6 linked regions of the Homo sapiens genome follow. The gene in region 6 interacts genetically with the main gene of each other region. Each region holds a gene or a part of one and is shown on either strand. Other genes may lie near its edges.

The links.
Region 1: changes in PRKAA1 (region 6) and CDC25A together harm fitness more than expected from each alone (negative genetic interaction), as found in Homo sapiens cells (one large-scale study listed by BioGRID).
Region 2: changes in PRKAA1 (region 6) and ALAD together harm fitness less than expected from each alone (positive genetic interaction), as found in Homo sapiens cells (one large-scale study listed by BioGRID).
Region 3: changes in PRKAA1 (region 6) and LARS2 together harm fitness more than expected from each alone (negative genetic interaction), as found in Homo sapiens cells (one large-scale study listed by BioGRID).
Region 4: changes in PRKAA1 (region 6) and PFKFB1 together harm fitness more than expected from each alone (negative genetic interaction), as found in Homo sapiens cells (one large-scale study listed by BioGRID).
Region 5: changes in PRKAA1 (region 6) and CD22 together harm fitness more than expected from each alone (negative genetic interaction), as found in Homo sapiens cells (one large-scale study listed by BioGRID).

What each region holds. Positions count from the first base shown.
Region 1 is NC_000003.12:48,157,413-48,161,004, reverse strand, and holds part of CDC25A (M-phase inducer phosphatase 1), read left to right. Parts: intron 1-1,549; coding exon 1,550-1,661; intron 1,662-1,919; coding exon 1,920-2,060; 3' UTR 2,061-3,592. UniProt on the Homo sapiens protein: Tyrosine protein phosphatase which functions as a dosage-dependent inducer of mitotic progression. Directly dephosphorylates CDK1 and stimulates its kinase activity. Also dephosphorylates CDK2 in complex with cyclin-E, in vitro.
Region 2 is NC_000009.12:113,388,541-113,391,368, forward strand, and holds part of ALAD (delta-aminolevulinic acid dehydratase), read right to left. Parts: intron 2,394-2,828; coding exon 2,258-2,393; intron 2,137-2,257; coding exon 2,053-2,136; intron 1,954-2,052; coding exon 1,865-1,953; intron 1,289-1,864; coding exon 1,233-1,288; intron 1,147-1,232; coding exon 1,059-1,146; intron 985-1,058; coding exon 898-984; intron 567-897; coding exon 437-566; intron 1-436.
Region 3 is NC_000003.12:45,391,488-45,395,079, forward strand, and holds part of LARS2 (leucine--tRNA ligase, mitochondrial), read left to right. Parts: intron 1-95; 5' UTR 96-161; intron 162-2,945; 5' UTR 2,946-2,966; coding exon 2,967-3,200; intron 3,201-3,592.
Region 4 is NC_000023.11:54,987,598-54,991,189, reverse strand, and holds part of PFKFB1 (6-phosphofructo-2-kinase/fructose-2,6-bisphosphatase 1), read left to right. Parts: intron 1-469; exon of another isoform or gene 470-551; intron 552-3,592. UniProt on the Homo sapiens protein: Synthesis and degradation of fructose 2,6-bisphosphate.
Region 5 is NC_000019.10:35,339,124-35,342,715, reverse strand, and holds part of CD22 (B-cell receptor CD22 isoform 1 precursor), read right to left. Parts: intron 1,836-3,592; coding exon 1,578-1,835; intron 1,374-1,577; coding exon 1,110-1,373; intron 1,015-1,109; coding exon 751-1,014; intron 1-750. UniProt on the Homo sapiens protein: Most highly expressed siglec (sialic acid-binding immunoglobulin-like lectin) on B-cells that plays a role in various aspects of B-cell biology including differentiation, antigen presentation, and trafficking to bone marrow.
Region 6 is NC_000005.10:40,770,783-40,774,374, reverse strand, and holds part of PRKAA1 (5'-AMP-activated protein kinase catalytic subunit alpha-1), read left to right. Parts: intron 1-2,511; coding exon 2,512-2,656; intron 2,657-3,592. UniProt on the Homo sapiens protein: Catalytic subunit of AMP-activated protein kinase (AMPK), an energy sensor protein kinase that plays a key role in regulating cellular energy metabolism.

The sequences.
Region 1 (3,592 bases), on a different chromosome or scaffold from region 6:
ATTTTTTGTAGTTTTAGTAGACACAGGGTTTCACTATCTTGGCCAGGCTGGTCTCGAACTCCTGACCTCGTGATCCACCGCCTCAGCCTCCCAAAGTGCTGGAATTACAGGTGTGAGCCACCGCGCCCAGCCAAACTCCTTTTAACCACAGGCAAATGGTTTAAGCTACGTGCTGCAGAGGAAGCTGCTGCCCATCCCTCATGAGCAGCTAACAAAGGCCCCAAACCACTGAGCTTCAAGAGAAAATCAGCAGATACTCTTGGCTCTTGTGTACCAGATACCTTTCTAGATACTGAGGGAGAAGAGCAGTGAACAAAACAGACCAAAAAATCTCTGCCTTCATGGAACTTACATTTCGGAGTGGACAGGAGATCGAGACCAGCCTGGCCAACATGGTGAAATCCCGTCTCTACTAAAAATACAAAAATTAGCCAGGCGTGGTGGCGGACACCTGTAATCCCAGCTACTTTGGAGGCTGAGGCAGGAGCATCCCTTGAACCCAGGAGGCAGAGGTTGCAGTGAGCCGAGATCGCGCCAGTGCACTCCAGCCTGGGCGACAGAGTGAGACTCCATCTCAAAAAAAAAAAAAAAAAGGTGACTGGGTGCGGTGGCTAACTCCTGTAATCCCAACACTTTGGGAGGCCAAGGCAGGTGGATCACAAGGTCAAGAGGTCGAGACCATCCTGGCCAACATGGTGAAGCCCCATCTCTACTAAACATACAAAAATCAGCTGGGCGGTGGCACGCGCCTGTAGTCCCAGCTATTTGGGAGGCTGAGGCAGGAGAATTGCTTGAACCCGGGAGACGGAGATTGCAGTGAGCCTGAGGTCACGCCCTTGCACTCCAGCCTGGTGACAGAGTGAGATTCTGTCTCAGAAAAAAGAAGGTGCTTCAGAGGAAAATAAGGCCAGTGGTGGAGCTCCCAGGCAGGCTGGAGGAACAGTAGTGGGGCTGCAGGGGCTGGCGTGGGGTGAACAAGGGGCAGAGCAGCAGTAGGGGCCTGTAGAGCTGTAGGCCTCTGAAGGACTTGGGGCCTCGGGCTTTTTCACCAAGGGCGAGGCAGTAAGCAGCCATTGGCTGGATATTGAAGACCATTCAGTCCAAGTAGAGGATAGAAACAGGGCCCCGAGGCAGGAGCAAGTTCAGCCTCTTTAAAAGCCACAGAAAGAAACAAGCCCACTTATGTAGAAGGAGGTGAGTGAGGGAGCCTGGCTGAAGAGAAGGCTGGGGTGGAGAAAGCAAGGGGAAGCTGGCTCATATAGTGAAAACTTGCCACAAACTGTGGTGGTGAAGGTGCTGGGCAGGACTCAGATGCTAGGATTGTTGGAGAAAGGAAAATTGGGGAAGAGACCATCTACTGGCACTGGCTGTGAGTGCTGCTCATGTGGCCAGGAACTTGCAACTCAGCACTGATTGTTTCTAAGAATAAATGTCAAGTTGGGAAGATGTGTATAAGGGGGACTTAGACCACAACTGCTGCTTTGACTGCGTTGCCTTGTTGCTGTGCTGGAAAAGCTAACCCTGCTTTGGCCTTCCTTCCCCTGACTAGGTGCCGGTATGTGAGAGAGAGAGATCGCCTGGGTAATGAATACCCCAAACTCCACTACCCTGAGCTGTATGTCCTGAAGGGGGGATACAAGGAGTTCTTTATGAAATGCCAGGTAAGACTGGGGTTGTGGAGAGCATCTCTCCTCCCCTGCCCCCAGTGGTAGACTAATGGATCTGTCTGGTGGTCATGACTTTCTTTCCAGGGGTCGGGGGACAAGGTGGGTATCTGCTGAACCCAAAGAAAGCCCCTGTAGAACTGGCTCCCTAGGTCTGCCTGGCCGCTTTCAGCCTTGTAGCCCTAGGCAGAGAGGAAACCAGGTTGTGGGTGTGAGGCAGGTGTACCCTAACCTTATTCTCTCCTGTCCCCTCAGTCTTACTGTGAGCCCCCTAGCTACCGGCCCATGCACCACGAGGACTTTAAAGAAGACCTGAAGAAGTTCCGCACCAAGAGCCGGACCTGGGCAGGGGAGAAGAGCAAGAGGGAGATGTACAGTCGTCTGAAGAAGCTCTGAGGGCGGCAGGACCAGCCAGCAGCAGCCCAAGCTTCCCTCCATCCCCCTTTACCCTCTTTGCTGCAGAGAAACTTAAGCAAAGGGGACAGCTGTGTGACATTTGGAGAGGGGGCCTGGGACTTCCATGCCTTAAACCTACCTCCCACACTCCCAAGGTTGGAGCCCAGGGCATCTTGCTGGCTACGCCTCTTCTGTCCCTGTTAGACGTCCTCCGTCCATATCAGAACTGTGCCACAATGCAGTTCTGAGCACCGTGTCAAGCTGCTCTGAGCCACAGTGGGATGAACCAGCCGGGGCCTTATCGGGCTCCAGCCATCTCATGAGGGGAGAGGAGACGGAGGGGAGTAGAGAAGTTACACAGAAATGCTGCTGGCCAAATAGCAAAGACAACCTGGGAAGGAAAGGTCTTTGTGGGATAATCCATATGTTTAATTTATTCAACTTCATCAATCACTTTATTTTATTTTTTTTTCTAACTCCTGGAGACTTATTTTACTGCTTCATTAGGTTGAAATACTGCCATTCTAGGTAGGGTTTTATTATCCCAGGGACTACCTCGGCTTTTAATTTAAAAAAAAAAAAGAAGTGGGTAAGAAAATGCAAACCTGTTATAAGTTATCGGACAGAAAGCTAGGTGCTCTGTCACCCCCAGGAGGCGCTGTGGTACTGGGGCTGCTGCTATTTAAGCCAAGAACTGAGGTCCTGGTGAGAGCGTTGGACCCAGGCTTGGCTGCCTGACATAAGCTAAATCTCCCAGACCCACCACTGGCTACCGATATCTATTTGGTGGGAGGTGTGGCCCTGTTCTTCCTCACCCCAGTTCCATGACATTGGCTGGTATAGGAGCCACAGTCAGGAAAGCACTTGAGGCAGCATCTGTTGGGCCACCCCCGGCTCAGTGCTGGAATGTTGCAGTGTAGGTTTCCCAGGGAAGGGGGGTGGGGGTAGGTGGGCTCCACAGGATGGGGGAGGAGCATGTCCACTGAGTATCTTCCTTATGTTGCTGTGATATTGATAGCTTTTATTTTCTAATTTTTAAAAAATGGTCATATTATGAGTCAAAGAGTATCAAATCAGTGTTGGATGGACCACCCAAGGGTGAGGAGAGGGGCTGGAAGCCCTGGGCATTAGGAGAAGGGAGTGGGTGCTGGCATGGACATGACTGGATAGAATTTTCTCAGGAGGGAGCTTGGTGGATTTTGAAGGTAAAACTTTCTGGGTTTATCATGTTTTAATTTTAGAGACAGGGAGTGATGAATCATCACCGGTTGTCCCCTTATCTAACTCCATAAAAGTGGGAATTTCAAAAGAACACCTCATCCAAGGAGCTGGGGCAGACTTCATTGATTCTAGAGAGACCTGTTTCAGTGCCTACTCATCCCTGCCCTCTGGTGCCAGCCTCCTTACCATCACGGCTTCACTGAGGTGTAGGTGGGTTTTTCTTAAACAGGAGACAGTCTCTCCCCTCTTACCTCAACTTCTTGGGGTGGGAATCAGTGATACTGGAGATGGCTAGTTGCTGTGTTACGGGT
Region 2 (2,828 bases), on a different chromosome or scaffold from region 6:
TCTTTTGGGGCCTCAGTTTACCAAAGAATAAAATGCACAGTGAAGGAAATAGGTAAGAGGCAAGTTCCTTCCCATGCTGGTGTGCAATTCTAACAAAATGAGTCCCCTTTATGGAGTGATATTACTTCATTTAATCCTCAGGACAACCACGCACCAGGTATCTTATCCCCAGTTATCCAGTTATGGGTGAGGACACTGAGGTTCAGAGAAGTGGCTTGCCCACGTTCTCACAACCAAAAATGAAGGGCTCTGCTTGCTTCACCGGGCCGTGTTCTATGCTGCAGTTCCATATCTCTTCCTCAGTGTGTGTCTGTTTAGATCACTAGTAATTCCCGGAATAAGATCCCAAGCTCTCAGGACGTCGTTCCCCAATCTAGGCAGAGTGCTTATCAGTCCCTGTGGCGCAGGTCAAAACACCCCACCCTTGCCTGCCTACCTGCTCTGCGGAAGGCAGTCATGGCCTCCAGTACGGCAGCCTTGAGATCAAATGCCCCGGCCTGGGCTCCATGCCACAGCATGGCAAACTCTCCAGAGACGTGGTACACGGCGAGAGGGAGGTCAGGGTGCTGCAGGGAAGCAGACAGGGAGACAGGCTGAAATGGAGGGTGGATGTGGCTCTGGAAGCGTCCCTTCCCCCCTGCTCAATCTGTGACCATCTTGAGCCCCGTGTCCTGGGTTACTGCGGCTGGCAGCCTGGCCCACTCTTGAACTGTTAAAGCAGGGCTGTTTGAGGCTCGTGCAAGCCCCGACATAGAAGGCCACGATGGTTCCTGGGCAGGGAAGGGGAGGAGAGGATGCATGCTTAAGGGCAAACTGCTTCCAACTCTGAGATTCCAGAGTCTGTGGAAAACTCTGTCCCAGCCCCCTGAGCCCCCTTTGCCTCGTACCTGTGCTCACCTTGTCCTTTACCTCCCGCACGATGTCCAGGTAGGGCATTCCCGGCTTCACCATGAGCATGTCAGCTCCTTCCCGTACATCCCGGTCCTAAGGGATGAGGGTATAATGTGGGTGGTGCCTAGGAGGGGGCTGAGGGTGGGGCTCAAGTCCTAGTCACTCACCACAGCTCGGAGAGCCAGGCCTCGTGCTCCAGGGGGCAGCTGGTAGCAGCGGCGGTCCCCAAAAGCTGGGCTTGACTTAGCTGCATCCCTGCAAAGCAGAGTCATCAGGGTGGGCTCCAGCTTTGGGCCAAAGGGCCAGGGATTCACAGCAGACCCCTGCCCACCCCTGCTCACCGGAAAGGGCCATAGAAACAGGAAGCAAATTTGGCACTGTAGCTCATCACCGATACCTATGGGGAGACAATGGAGGTCTTGGCTTATTCGGCCCTTGCCAGGTATCCCAGGGTGATGTGGCAGGGAGAGAAAGAACCTAGGCTGGGAAGGAGACTGCCTGTGTTCTGGTCCTGTTGGAGTGCTGGGCTTGATTTCCCTGCAGAGGCCCAGAGGTTTAAATGGTTCCCCAAAGCCTCATCCAGCACTGTCTTCAGTTCTGTGATTCTTTTTTTTTTTGAGATGGAGTCTAGCTCTGTCATCCAGGCTGAAGTGCAGTGGCATGATCTCAGCTCACTGCCTCGTGGGTTCAAGCGATTCTCCTGCCTCAGCCTCCCCAGTAGCTGGGATTACAGGCGCCTGCCACCACGCCCAGCTAATTTTTGTGTTTTTAGTAGAGATGGGGTTTCACCATGTTGGCCAGGCTGGTCTTGAACCCCTGACCTCAAGTGATCTACCTGCCTCAGCCTCCCAAAGTGCTGGGACTACAGGTGTGAGCCAACACGCCCGGCAGTTCTGTGATTCTTAGCAGACACGGGGGCAGGGCTGGTGCAGACTATCTCCTGCCAGCCCTGTGCTGCATTCCCTGCCCTTACCCTGTTGCCAAGTCCATGTGCCATCAGGGCCTCTTTGATGGCTTCCACGCGTCCATCCATCATGTCCGACGGGGCTACCACCTGACATCCTGGGGGGCAGAGGGTGGCCTTCAGAACTCTGGGGCCCTCCTAGCCACTCTGCCACCTCCTGACCCAGAGGTGCCCATCCCTGCTGGTGGTTCACTCACCTGCCTTGGCATACGCCAATGCCACCTCAGCCAGCCGCTGGCGGCTCTCCTCAGCCCGGAATGCTCCGTTTTCACTCAGGAGCCCTTCAGGACAGATGACTGGGTTTTGGGGAGCACCTTGGGCCCTGGCCTGTCCCCACCCTGTTGAGAAGTGGGCAGTAGGAGTGTGGGTGGCAGCAGGGCTGGTGGGAGGGAGGGAACTCACCGCAGTGACCATGGGAGGTGTAGGGACACAGGCAGACATCACAGGCCACCAGGAGGTTGGGGAAGGTCTTCCTCAACAGATGGATTGCCTCAATAGCTGGGGACTCCTCGGAGTCAGCTGCGGAACCCCGCTCGTCCTAGGGGCAGGGGAGGGACAAAGCAGTGTGTCTATTACATGTAGCTTTGGAAGGCAGGATGACAGCCATCACAGAGCATAGCCCTGGCCTTCTCCTTCCTTCATCATCACAGCCCCTGGATAAGGAAGCACAGAGGACTGACCCTACATGGGTGCTGACTTAAGGGCAAAGACCACGTCCATTCACCTGTGGCCCCAGGGCCAGCACAATGTGGGAGTGAGGGTGCAGTCAGTGTGGACCCTCAGTCCACCTTTGCCCAACCTCCCTTCCTTTTTCTGTTTGTATTGGAGACAGGGTCTTGCTCTGTCACCCAGGCTAGAGTGCACTGGCGCGATTTTGGCTCACTGCAGCCTCGACTTTCTGGGCTCAAGCAATCCTCCCACCTCTCCACCTCCCGAGTAGCTGGGACTACAGGCACATACCCCCACACCCAGC
Region 3 (3,592 bases), on a different chromosome or scaffold from region 6:
AAAAAAAAAACAAAATCCATCTGTGTTTTTATTTTTTTATGACACTTTAAAAATATTCTAATTTATTTATTTTATTTTATTTTTCTGCTTTTCAGATCCAGACCTACAGATAAAAAACATTATTTAATCTATCTGGGATTTACTCCGGCTTATGATTTGAGGTGGGGCTCTAATTTTAAGTTTTTCTCTTATTTGTTGAATAATCTATTACTATCTAATCTGCTCCTGCTTTTTTAAAAAAATGAACTTTAAATGCTTTTAAATACCCAGATCTGTTTCAGGATTCTCTAGTTCACTGGTTTATTTAAGCAAAGCAGAGGTCATTAGTAAGCCAGGTATTATGTGAACATTTTTAGAAAGCTTATTCTTGTTGTGTAGACAGACAGTGTAGGCAGAGCAGTTCAAGTCACTGTATTTTATAATTTTGTTGTGCCCTTTTGTTTCTATTTGAGAGGATAGCCCAGAACACTCCTTAGGTGTTCTTTGGGGATGCTGTCTAGGAGAGAAGTGGCAAGCATCCATCTATGTGTCCTCTGCTAAACAGGCGTTCTTTGGCTTGCAAAGGTATGAAAGTATTGACTTGGCAAGAGAACCATAAAATCTGTGACTTCTATATAATTAGGGAGTTCTAATTATAGCAACCTAAGCCCTAAAAATATATGCAATTGCCTTAAGTGTACAAAGCGTATGTATATTAGGTCAGTCATATGGAATTGCTAACATTTAACCAATTTCATATAGTTCAAATGCCTGTAATCAGATCTGTGTACTTTAAAATAGCCAAGCCCAACTAATAGAGAGATTTCTTTTTTATCTTTTTTTTTTTTTTTTTGAGATGGAGTCTTGTTTTGTCGCCCAGGCTCTGGAGTGCAGTGGCGCTCACTGCAACCTCTGCCTCCCAGGTTCAAGTTATTCCTCTGCCTCAGCCACCCTAGTAGCTAGGATTACAGATGCACGTCACCATGCCCAGCTAATTTTTGTATTTTTAGTAGAGAAGGGGTTTTGCCATGTTGGCCAGATTGGTCTCGAACTCCTGACCTCAGGTGATCCGCCTGCCTCAGCCTCCCAGAATGCTGGTGTTACAGACGTGAACCATTGCCCGTGGCCTAAGAGAGATTTTTTTTTTTAAGTCTGCACTTTATTCTATCCCTGAAGAAGCAAGAGGTGTTTAATGTAGTGAGAACTGATAATGTCAATGACTTTGGCAGACCAACTTGTAAGATGCCCACATTATGTTGCTGTCTTATGTGAGTTTGAAACTCACTGTTATAAGCCTATATTGACCTTCCTGGCAACATTTGTGTTCTAGTACCTTTGTGAAACAGGCCAAATCCTGATAGAAGTGGAATTTTGAGAGAATCAAAGAACATCAGCTTAGAGTGCCGGGTTTCTTTATTTCTCTCTGGTTTTGAAAAGATCTGTTGTCATCTGTTTTTTCACTGTAGCACTTCTTGAATGCTGTTATGCCAGAAGGAGAAAGTTTAGGCTATTTAGTCTAGTATTTATATCTTAAATATTTGATAAAAATCTCACCTCAACCCTTTGAATAGCAATAAAACATGAAACTTCTTCAGTGAGGTCATTTCCAGTATTTACCTGTGGAAGAAGCCAACGAAACATTAAAATTGGATTTTGAATCACAACTGGATATCCTGGTAGGCCCCAACCTATGAGTTGTATTTCAAAAAATAGCACTCACCGTGACCACATGTTATATATTTTTGTTTCTCATCTGCCTCCCTTATTGTTTGTTTCTTATCTGCTTCCCTGCTAGTATGTAATAAGTGCTACGAAAGAAGGGACTCTGGGCCAGGTGTGGTGGCTCACGCCTATAATCCTAGCACTTTGGGAGGCCAAGGTGGGTGGATCATGAGGTCAGCAGTTCGACACCAACCTGGCCAACATGGTGAAACCCCATCTCCACTAAAAATACGAAAATTAGCCGGGCATGTTGGTGCATGCCTATAATCCCAGCTACTCAGGAGGCTGAGGCAGGAGAATTGCTTGAACCCAGGAGGTGGAGGTTGCAGTGAGCCAAGATCATGCCATTGCACTTCAGCCTGGGCAATAGAGCGAGACTCTGTCTCAAAAAAGAAAAAAAAACAGAGAAAGAAAGAAGGGACTCTGTTTGTGTTTACTGCTATATTCCCAGTACTTAGAACAACGTGTGGGCCTAGTGGTAGTCATTAAATATTTGGTGGTGGCTCACGCCTGTAATCCCAGCACTTTGGTAGGCTAAGGCAGGTAGATCGCTTGAGCCCAGGAGTCAGAGGTTACACTGAGGTATGATTATGCCACTGCACTCCAGCCTGAGTGAAAGAGCAGGACCCTGTCTCTAAAAAGTAAGTAAATAAATAAATAAATATTTGGTAAATGAAGGAGAAACTAAATGAATTAACAGTCTTCTAAATAATGGTTATTTTCTGGTTCAGCCTACAGGGTATATTTAACTCATAATATGTATAAAAATTACTAATAGTAGTTCAGAATTTCTGGCCCTCCTGGGAGGCCTGTATTTAGACCCCTTCTGATATTTGAGCCTAACGCCAACTCAGCATGTGCTTGAGCTCTTCTGAGGCTTGAAGACATAAGAAGTGAAGCCTGCTGGAGAGTCCCTGGGCTGGCCCATGGGGAGGGGAGGGAGGGCACTCCATGCCTTCCATGCAACTTGTGAGGTTGCGCAGGAGCTGGCCAGCTGATGGTCTCCATTTTTTCCTACAGGATTTTTGCATCTTTGATGTTAGGGGTTACTGACCCTTTATATTTTCTATTAAAAAGTTTGTGTTTAGCTCAATTGAATTGCTAAAGTATTCTTTTCAGGGAAAGAAATTATTAAAAGTAAGAGGAAAGCACAGGGCCAGAACACTGGACTGTGCCAAATGGAAAGATAAGCTCTGGGGAGGGTTTGAGGCAGCTCATAGTGTGCTTTCTGCCCTCTTTTTCAGGGCCTTCTCACCTTCTGAAGAATGGCTTCTGTTTGGCAGAGATTGGGTTTTTATGCCTCTCTTCTGAAAAGACAGCTAAATGGTGGGCCAGATGTCATCAAGTGGGAAAGGAGAGTAATTCCCGGATGTACCAGAAGCATCTACAGTGCCACGGGAAAGTGGACAAAAGAGTATACATTGCAGACAAGAAAGGATGTTGAGAAATGGTGGCATCAACGAATAAAAGAACAGGCCTCCAAAATTTCAGAAGCTGATGTGAGTATTCTGAGAGATTCTAAGAGGGTAGAGAAGAGGGGTTGAAGGTTTGGACCCTGGGGTTAGACTACCTGGTTCAAATAAGATATTAAATATGTGACCTTGAACCAAATTGTTGAATTTCTCTGTGCTTCAATTCTCTTATCTGAGATGGAGAGTGATCATAATAGTGCCCACCTGCACTATTGGGAGGGGTAAATGGATTGGGAGGCATAAATGAGGTGATACAAAGGTAGTGTTTACAAGAGTTTCCAATGTGGTGGATGCACACATAGTAATATTGCGCACGAGGTGTATGACAGACAGCAGCAAACCAGGTGTTCTAGAGCAACATTTACTGGGGAAGCTCATCAAAATAGGAGCTCTACCAGATGATGGGTCCTTTGTGGTCC
Region 4 (3,592 bases), on a different chromosome or scaffold from region 6:
TTCTTATGAGTTTTGATAATTTGTATGTAAATGACAGCTTTCATTTTCCCCACAACCCTCATTTTTATCTTTCTTATATTATTACACTGCTAAGACCTCCCGCCTTTAATATACACACACGAGATGTGCAGTACACGTTGAAAAGAAATGTTAATAATGTATATTCTTATGCTGATCCCGATTTTAAGTTTCACCATTGAGCAAATTTGCTGTAGTTTTTTTGGTAGATATCATTTAATAGGTTAAAGACGTTCCTGTTTATTCTGAGTTTGCCAATACAATTTTTAAAAGATGAATGAATATTGAATTTTATTAAACATGTTTTCTGTATTCACTGAAATGACATTAATTTTCTATTTTAACCCATTAATGTGGTACAATACATTAGAGTTTTTCTTGTGTTGAAATAATCTTGCAGTCCTGGGATAAATAAAAACTTCTGAATTTCTTTCACTAATTTTTTGTTTAGGATTTTAGCATTTTGCTCAGGAAAGAGATTGGCCTGTGATTTTTCCAAGAGTGTCAAGATTACACTAACCTCATAAAATCAGGTGGGAACTATTTCCTTTCATTCTGTCCTCTGACAGAGGTTGTCTGCAGAACTAGCCATTCCTCAAATATTTTACCTGGCAGCATTTCCAGGTAAAATATCTGGACCTGGTGTCTCCTTTAACATTTTAACTGATACAATCTCTTTTATCAGTTATAGAGTCCTTTCAGTTTGCTATTTCCACTAAAGTTAGCTTTCTTAAGCTTTCCTAAGTTATGGTTTTCTATGAATTTTTCTACTTCACATAGTTTTCAAATTTATTTTGTGTAAAGTTCTTATCTTTGTATCTTTTTTATCTCTGTTGCATTTGTAGTTATAGCTTCTCTTTCATTATAATATTATTTATTTGCACCTTTTTTCTCTTGATCAATCTTGCTATAAGTTTGACACTTTTATAATTCTAAAATAATCAACTTTTGACTTTTTGATCCTTTTTTATCTTTATTTTCTATTTAACTATTTTTTCATCATTATTCTGTTTCTCCTACTTTCTTTGGATTTATTCTGTTGTTCTTTTTTAACTCATAGAGTTGCCTGCTGCTCAGCTCATTCATTTTCAGACTTTCTTCTTTTCTAATTTAAGTGTCCAATGAGATAATTGGCCTACTAAACAGGGCTGATATTCCACAGATTCACAATCGTATGGCCATATGAATTTTCAGAATATTTCTAGTCCATTTTATAAATAGGCACTCTCCCAGGCTTTTTTAGTCTCTCCAACACTTACCCAGTTACCCTGGCCACCTCAATTCCTTTCCCAGGATAGCCAGGACCTACTGATTATCATCTAGCAACTAAAGGATTAATGCCTACCACAGCAGGAGGCCTCCAGTACTTGGTGCCAGCCCTTGGACCAGCTTCTGTTTTGATAGATCAGTGCTCTTGTCATTTCTATTTTAATTCCATTCTGGTCAGAGAACAAACTTTGTATTATTTCAGTTCTTTGAAATCTGTTGAGACTTGCTTTATGGACCAACTTATGGACAATCTGGTAAATGTTCCAAGAGCACTTGAAAAGAATGTGCGTTTTACAGTTGTGTTTAGTGTACTATATACCTCGATTAAGTTGTGTTTGTTAATCTGGCTCAAATGTTCTATATTCTTCTGGGGTTTTGGCTGCCTGTTGATATGGAAAATTTGTTAATGTTTCCTTGTAATTCTGTCAATCTTGAAAGTTCGTAGTTACAAACAAATTTAGAATTGCTATATCTTCCTTGTGAATTGAATATTTTATCACCATGTAAGGAAATTATTAACTCTGGTAATACCTGGTAATTTGGTATCATTGATGTTTTTGCCCTATAATCAATCTTTTTTCTCATATTAATATACCTACATTAGCTTTATTTAGCTTAATATTTGCCTGGTATGTGTTTTCCTACATTTAAAAAATTGTTTTTGATAGAGATATAATTCACATACCATAAAATTCACCATTTTGAAGTATACAGTGGTTTTGAGTATATTCACATAGTTGTGTAACCATCACCACTAATTCCAGGACATTTTCTTTATGCCAAAAAGGAATTCCATACTCTAGACTCACTCCAGATGACCCTCTCCCCTTAGCCCCTGGCAACCACTAATCTACTTTCAGTCTCAATGAATTTGCCTATTCTGGACATTTTATATAAGGGGAATCATACAATATGTGGCCTTTTGTATCTGGCTCGTTTCTTTGGGCATGTTTTCAAGGTTAATCCATGTTGTAGCATGCAAAGTCACAAAGATATATGCCTAGGCTTTTTTCTAAGAGTTTTATAGTCTTGGCTCTTACATTTAGGTTTTTCAATTTATTCTGAGTTAATATTTGCATGTGGTGTGAGATGGGAATCCAGCTTCGTTCTTTTGCATGTGGCTATCCAGTTGTCCTAGCAGCATTTTTTGAAAAGACTCTTCTTTCCCCTACTTAATTGTCTTGGCACCCTTGATGAAAATCAGGTGACTATAAGTTGAAGGGTTTACTTCTGGGCTCTCAGTTCTATTCCATTTGTTTATATGTATCTCTACCCTTATACCAGTACCACACATTCTTGATTATTGTAGTTTAATTGTAATTTTGAAATTGGGAAGTATGTCTTCTAATTTTGGTCTTTTTCAGATTGTTTTTATGATTGTTTTGGCTATTCTAGGTCCTTTGCATTTCCATATAAATTTTAAGACCAATTTATTAATTTCTGCAAAGAATTAAGCTGAAACTTTGACAGAAGCTGCATTTAATCTATAGATTAGTTAGGGAATATTACCATCTTAACAATAATAAGTTTTAGGTCCCTGAACATGAGATGTTGTTGCATTTACTTAGGTCTTTAATTATATTCACCAATGTTTTGCAGTTTTCAGAGTGTTTTACATTTTTTAAAGTGTTCTTTTAAGCATTTTATTGTTTTGATGCTATTGTAAATAAAATTGTTTTACTTAATTTCATTTTGTTTGCTCATGGCTACTTTATAGAAATGTAATTGATTTTTATATATTGATCTTATATTCTGCAACATTGCTGGACTCATTTATTAGGTCCAATGGTGTTTTTTAGTGCATTCCTTGGGATTTTCTATATACAAGATTATGTTATCTGCAAATAGAAATAATTTCATCTCTTCCTTTCCAATCCAGATGCCTTTTATTTTCTTTTTCTTACCTAATTACCTTGGCTATAACCTCTACTAGAATGTTGAAAAGATGAGATGAAAACAGACATCCTTCTGTTGTTACTGATCTTGGCAGGCGGCATGGGAGAAACTATTCAATCTTTCACCATTAAGTGTGATATTCACTGTGGGTTTTTCATTGGTGTCTTTTATTAGGTTTAGGGCCTTTCCTTCTAGTTTTAATTTGTTGTTGGTTTTATCATGAAGGGGTATTTAATTTCCCAAATGCTTTATCTGTGCCTATTATGATGATCATTTGGTTTTTTTGTCCTTAATTCTATTGATGTGATCTGTTGCATTAATTGATTTTCAAAGGTTAAATCAAGCTTGCATTCCTATAATAAATCTAACTTGATTGTGATGTAAAAAGTATAAGTATAATATATACATA
Region 5 (3,592 bases), on a different chromosome or scaffold from region 6:
GGAAGGTGGAGCAGCCTGAGAGGGGACCCTAGAGGGAGGCAGGAGAGACTGCAGGGGAGGTAGAAAAAGAGAGACTGGTGACGCAGGACAAGACGACTCCTCCAGCACAGCGGCAGATGGCCTGGAGCAAGGGGTGTGAATGGGAAAGGGGACAGTGAGGTGGGGAAGAAGGGGCCAGCTGGTCTGGAAGGCTTTTCGGGAAGTCACTGGAGGAGACAGGGCCAGAGAGGAGCATGAGAGGAAACAGGGAGAGGCACAGTGGCTCATGGCTCTAATCCCAGGGCTTTGGGAAGCTGAGGCAGAAGGGTCACTTGAGGTCAGGAGTTTGAAACCAGCCTGGTCAACATAGTAAGACCCCATCTCTACAAAAATGTAAAAATTAGCCGGATGTGGTGGTGCATGTCTATAGTCCCAGCTACTCAGGAGGCTGAGGCGAAAGGATTGCTTGAGCCCAGGAATTGGAGGCTGCAGTGAGGTGTCATTATGCGACTGCACTCCAGCCTGGGTGACAGAGTAAGACCTTGTCTCTATAAGAAGAAGAAGAAGGAAGGAGAAGGAGAAGAAAGAGGAGGAGGAGAGGGAGAAAGCAGAAGAAGAAGAAGAAGGAGGAAGAGGAGGAGGAGGGGAAGAAGAGGAGGAGGAAAAGAAAGAGAGAAAGAAAGGAAGGAAGGAAGGAAGGAAGGAAGGAAGGAAGGAAGGAAGGAAGGACTGACCACCACCAAGAAGAACAAGAGCAGGAAGAGGCCTTACAGTAGACGGTGAGGGTGCTGAGAGGCGAACGGCCCTTGCCCACACTGTTGGTCCCCTGGCACCAGTAGGCACCCGAGTGCTGGACCTTCACCGGCTCCAATCTCAGCTTCTGGCTGTGGTAGGGGAGGCTTTGGTTATTCCAGTCAAACCAGGTGTAGTGGGAGACGGGAGGGTTGGCGTCGCTCTCACAGGTCAGGGTTGCACTCTTCCCCTCCATCACTTGGTCCCCCGGGCTCATGGACACACGCAGCCTCCTGGGTGCATCTGCATGGCGGGCAGGGGGAGGGGGTGCGAAGTCACTACCAGGCAGGCCACTGGTCCCTTCTCTGCTCCACTCCCAGCCTCCGGCCCTCACTCACACAGCACTTCAAGTGTCCAGGCCTTGGACGCTGTCTGTCCTATGGAGTTGTTCACCCAGCAGCTGTAACTCCCAGCATCTTCTGGGGAGATGGAGTCAAAATTCAGCTGGCTTTCTTTCCCCAGAAGCCTGCCATTTTTCTCCCAGAAGAACTGGACTTCTTTGGGGTGGCTGCTTGAGAAGTCACATTGGAGGCTGACCGAGTTTCCAGAGTGAATCTCGGAAAGGGGCTTGATTTTCCGGACCCTCACGTCTCGGGGGGCATCTGGAGGGCAAGGGTCCCAAGCTGACCTCTCCGCTCCCTGTCCCTTTTGCTGTCCCCAGGCCTCCCCTCCCCTTGGCCCTGACGCCAGGCTCCTGTCCCTCAATTCTGTTGAAGACACTGGCCCAGGCTCCGGCCTCGTTGCCTTCATCCCCTCATCCCAGCCGGGCCACCTCCCAGATCCCCCTGCCTAGCCCAGGGACTCACACTGGACATTCAGGGCGACAGGGGAGGCCCACGAGCACCAACTATTACAAGCTGCGCAGGCGATGGTTGTGTTGTCCCAGCCAACGTTTTGGATCTTCAGCACCCCAAGCGATGGCTCCTCCCAGGCGCCATGGGGTTTCCATTCATACCGGGTAACACTGGGGTTACTGGAATTGTAGTTACAGGAAAGGGTCACTGTGTCTCCTTCTCGAATCGGCATGGGGTTTTGAATCACTGTGGTCACCTTCTTGGGAGGATCTGGAAGAAAACCAGAGAGGTGAGTAAAGAAAAGCCAGCTGTCCACAGTACCCCTTCCCTCCTGCTTCCTCTTCTCCCGCTACCTGTCCCGGGCATCTGCACAGGTCCTAAATTAATCAAAGGGGGGCTTGTGCGTCCTTCCTGCATCTGTGTGAGAACAGAAACCCTGCCCTGGCTCTCTGGCCTGGCTGTGGTTTGGTGCAGGGGTTCAGGGCACAGCGCTGAAGCCAGACGGCTGCTGAGAGGCGCACGGGCATGGGCTGCAGGTCTCAGTTTACACGTCTGTCAAATGGGGTCCTGAGGCCGGGCATGGTGGCTCACGCTTGTAATTTCAGCACTTTGGGAGGCTGAGGTGGGCAGATCACCTGAGGTCAGGAGTTCGAGACCTGGCCAACACAGCAAAACCCTGTCTCTACTAAAAATTTTAAAAATTAGCTATGCATGCTGGTGCATGTCTGTAGTCCCAGCTACTCAGGTGGTCGAGGCAAGAGAATCGCTTGAACCCGGGAGGTGGAGGTTGCAGTGAGCCGAGATCAAGCCACTGCACTCCAGCCTGGGCAACAGAGGGAGACTCCATCTTAAAAACAAGAGGCAGTGCGGGGTGGGTGGGGGGTGAGTCCTGAGAGTTCCTAACCTCCTGGGAATTGTTTCAAGAAGGAAATGAGATGACTCCCTTAGAGCAGAGTGTGGCGTGTGGCAAACACTCCACAAACATCACTGTGGCTGCTGTGGTCACGCATCCAGCTGTCTGAGATGCTCAGGATTTGGGCACCCCTGTCCTGTTAGCACATATGACATCTCAGGGTCCAAGGATCGAGCTTATGTGTTCTTTTTGTCCTGTGCTCTACATGGTAACAAGATTCACTGTGTTAAAAGGGTCTTACAATGGAGAGGTAATGAGACAGTTTGCCCCAGTTCTCATTAAAAATTTCAAGATCTCTCAAGACTCAGCCACTGCCTAGGGACGCTAAGTCTCTGTGTCCCTCATGGAGTCCTGGTATCTTGCAGTTAATTATTCTTTTTTTTTGGAGACAGAATCTCACTCTACCCAGGCTAGAGTGCAGTGACATGATCTCAGCTCATTGCAACCTCTGCCTCCTGGGTTCAAGCGATTCTCCTGCCTCAGCCTCCCAGGTAGGTGGATTTCAGGTGCCTGCCACCATGCCCGGCTAATTTTTTGTATTTTTAGTAGAGACAGGGTTTCGCCATGTTGGCCAGGCTGGTCTCGAACTCCTGACCTCAGGTGATCTGCCCACCTTGGCCTCCCAAAGTGCTGGGATTACAGGCGTAAGCCACCATGCCTGGCCAATCCATTCTTTTTTTTGAGACAAGGTCTCACTCAGTCACCCAGGCTGGAGTGCAGCGGCATGATCACAGGCTCACTGCAGCCTCTACTTCCAGGCTCAGGTGATCCTCCCACCTCAGCCTCCTGGGTAGCTGAGACTACAGGCATGCATGACCATGCCAGGCTAATTTTTTTTTGTAGAGATGGGGTTTTACCATGTTGCCCAGGCTGGGCTTGAACTCGTGGCCTCAAGTGAGCTGCCTACCTTGGCCTCCCAAAGTGCTGGGATTACAAGTGTGAGCCACTGTGCCCAGCTCACACCTATAATCCCAGTCCCAGCATTTTCTTTTTCTTTTTGAGACCCAGGTCTTGCTCTGTCACCCAGGCTAGAGTGCAGTAGCAGGAACATAGTTCAGTCTGCAGCCTTCACTTCCTGGGCTCAAGTGATTCTCCCTCCTCAGCCTCCCCAGTA
Region 6 (3,592 bases):
CATTTTTTTAGTCTGCTGTTATTTGCCTCACAGATATAATAACCTAGTCTGAGGATGGCATTTTAAAAAAAGTCTTCCTCTGTTCCGTCTTGTTCTGTACCTTCTGTGCTCTCTGCATTCATTTTATTCATTTTTGTCTTTGATGCATGGCCCTTCTTCAGATATTTGGTGATTCTTGGCTGTCCACTAAATATTTAAGAATAGGGTATTAAATGCCAGGCTCATGTGGGTAGGACTTACTGATTGCTGGGTTTTCTCATAGCTTGAATAGGTAGGGACTTGTCTGTTTTATTACTGTATACCAAATGCTAATAATAACAAATATGTTTTCTTGGATCAGATATTTGCTCCAGAAGAAACCTTCCCATTTCCTTAAAGGCCTTAGCTTAGCTGCCAGTGCTCCAGGAGCTGAGTGGAGAAAAGAGATGCAAGTCTCACTAGTTAGTATGTTGACTTTGTCTTAGCCCCCATGTTTTCCTTAGGATGCCTTATCCCTGCCTTGGTGTCCTTGAGAGCAGAGCTGGTTCAGCCTTACTAGAGTAAATTATAGGTCTTATTCCCCAATATGGGTGAGTTTAAAAGCTTCTTACTTCAAGCACTTGTCCTGTTTTCAGCTCATCTCTCACTTCTACCTTGAGCAGTTCCCTGTGTTTCCAATTTCTAAGGCTTCCCAGGCTTTGTATGCAGATGTTTATTTTTTACTGGTTTCTACCCCTATAGGCTTAGGTTTTAGCTTTCTCTTGTAGGCTTAGTCTTTATTACTGTTTATCTATTGTCATCCTTGGTGACTCCTCTTGATTACTGCTGTCTCTTTTGTTCTTTTTGTCTTTATATGCCTGTTTTATTGCTGATGTCATTTTAGTGATGTTTCAAGAGTTGGAGACAAAAGATTTAATCTGTTACATTTAATTGGAAATGTATTTTGACTTTTCTAACCTTCCTTTATAGACATCCCTTTCTCCATCCTTTGTAATTGTACTTGTTACTAATACAGTATAATTTTCATTTTTGTAGCCTGTCTATTTTACTTTTTATATTTTGTTTAATCAAGTTTTCTCCTATTTTTTCATATTTGAACAGATACTCTTTTTTTTCCCCATGAACCTACAAATCTAGAAATAAAAGTATTAGAATGCTAAAGGATTAGTATTTTTCTAGAGGAATGGTATCTTATAATAGTTTCTTGTTTCAAAATAAATTACTGATTTGTATTTTCTCCCATATTATCCATGCCCTTTAAGGTGTAAGTCTGGTTTTAGAATGCTAATTTGTGACCTGTGTTAGAGAATTGCATATTGGAGTCCTTCGCCTAGAGGATTAATAGCTTATTTATTAAATATGACTTCTTGGGAGCAGGCATGTCCAAGTAATGGCTGTCACTTATGTTGAAAAAAGTGGTAATAATATATGGATACATAGAGAAGTTTAAAAAAAATACTTCAGGCTGCATGCAGTGGCACATGTCTGTAATCTCAGCACTTTGGGATGCTGAAGCGGTAGATTGCCTGAGCTCAGGAGTTCGAGACCAGCCTGGGCAACATGGCAAAGTCCTGTCTCTATCAGAAATACAAAAATTAGTGGGCGTGGTGGCATGTGCCTGTGGTCCCAACTACTTAGGAGGCTGGGGTGGGAGGATTGCGGGACCCCAGGGAAGCCGAGGCTGCAGTGAGCCGTGATGGCATCACTGCACTCCAGCCTGGATGACAGAACGAGACTGGATCTCAAAATATAGATAAATTTAAAACCCCGCCCCCCCAAAAAAACACAAAAAACAAAAATGAAAAGGTAGTTGCTATGTAAGATTTTTTTTTTAGCAAGCATATTAAAGATAAAATGCTATGATATTTTATTAAATGAATTAAGGTGTTTGTTGTTAAAATGTCTTCTATTTTAGGACATATAGCAACATAGTTGCTTGCTGGTTTATGAATAGTGCTTAAATATTACTTCCTCATGGTCTAAAATAGTGTCCCTCACCCCACTATCACTCACTGCACCTATATTTTGCTTTATTTTTCTTCAAAACAGTATCACTCCTTCTGACTATATTTATTAGTCTATTTTCATCAACTAGATTAGCCTTTGTTTTATTCATTGCTGTGTAATGAGTGTCTAAAGCAATGTGTAGCACGTTGAAGGTATTCAGTAATTTGTTAAAAGAATGAAAGAGTAAACATTTGCCGCTTATAAAAGGAAATATGCCAAATTTCAAGTAGATATTGAAATTATTTGAAATAACTCATGAGATATAGAGGAAGGCAAGCTGTTACAATGTAGTCATATGCAAATGATAATATTAGAAACTTGAGTTACTGATTTGGGTTCCAAGACCATCTTAGCATTTCTGTTTTGTGCTGCAGGTATCTCCTCCTCATGTCAAAAGTATCTCATAAGTGAAGTTCATTGGGAAGATTTTCATGTATTTTGACAATTTTATAGGTTGGAGAATTATAGATAGGACAATTTACTTTGAAAGACACACCTTTAAAAAGCCTCTCTAACTTTTCTTAGCTGGATGAAAAAGAAAGTCGGCGTCTGTTCCAACAGATCCTTTCTGGTGTGGATTATTGTCACAGGCATATGGTGGTCCATAGAGATTTGAAACCTGAAAATGTCCTGCTTGATGCACACATGAATGCAAAGATAGCTGATTTTGGTAAGGATAATTTTATAGTTTCTTAACGTTCATTTCTAATGTTCTTATAGTTTCAATGAACCTACCTAGAATTCTTCAGATAACTGTAAAAGATTACATAAAGTAATAGACTGAGTATATCAAAGTATTCTGTTTTGTCTATGAAGATACAAAAAGAAGAAAAGCTAAGAAATCATCTTTTCTTAGCTTTAAATGTCTTTATTACTATTATTTTATAGAGGCAGGGTTTCGCTTTGTCGCCCAGGCTGGAGGGCAGCGACGTGATCATAGCTCACTGCATCCCCAAACTACTGGGCCAGGTGACCCTCCTGCCTCAGCCTCCTGAGTAGCTGGGACTGCAGGCGTGCACTACCATGCCAGGCTGTTTTGTCTTTTTGTAGAGACAAGTTCTCACTATGTTGTCCAGGCTGCTCTTGAACTCCTGGCCTCAAGTGATCTTCCTACCACAGCTTCCCAAAGTATTGGGATTACAGGTGTGCACCACTGCACCTGGCTCTTTAAATATCTTTAAAATTAAATTTTAAACAACTTAAGTTGGTAGTATTAGAGAGACTATTTGAAAAGAGTATTATTTGTGAAAGAGAAGGTAGCAGCTTTATTTCCAGTATGTTCAAAAGAATCAAGTATGGAGAAGAAGGAAAGTGAGTGGGATGGAATTATTTAAAACCTTAAAAACCAGAAGTGAACTATGTGAATTTAATTATTTAAAATTATTTAAAACAATTTTTTAATTAAAAAAATTTATTTAAAAATTTAAAAATGTTTTAAATGATAGTAAATTATAATTTGTTTAAAGAACATTTTGATTGTTAAAAATGAATTTATTTTGGCTGGGCGTGGTGGCTTATACCTGTAATCCCAGCATTTTGGGAGGCCGAGGCGGGCGGATCACCTGAGGTCAGGAGTTCGAGCCCAGCCTGGCCAACATGGTGAAAA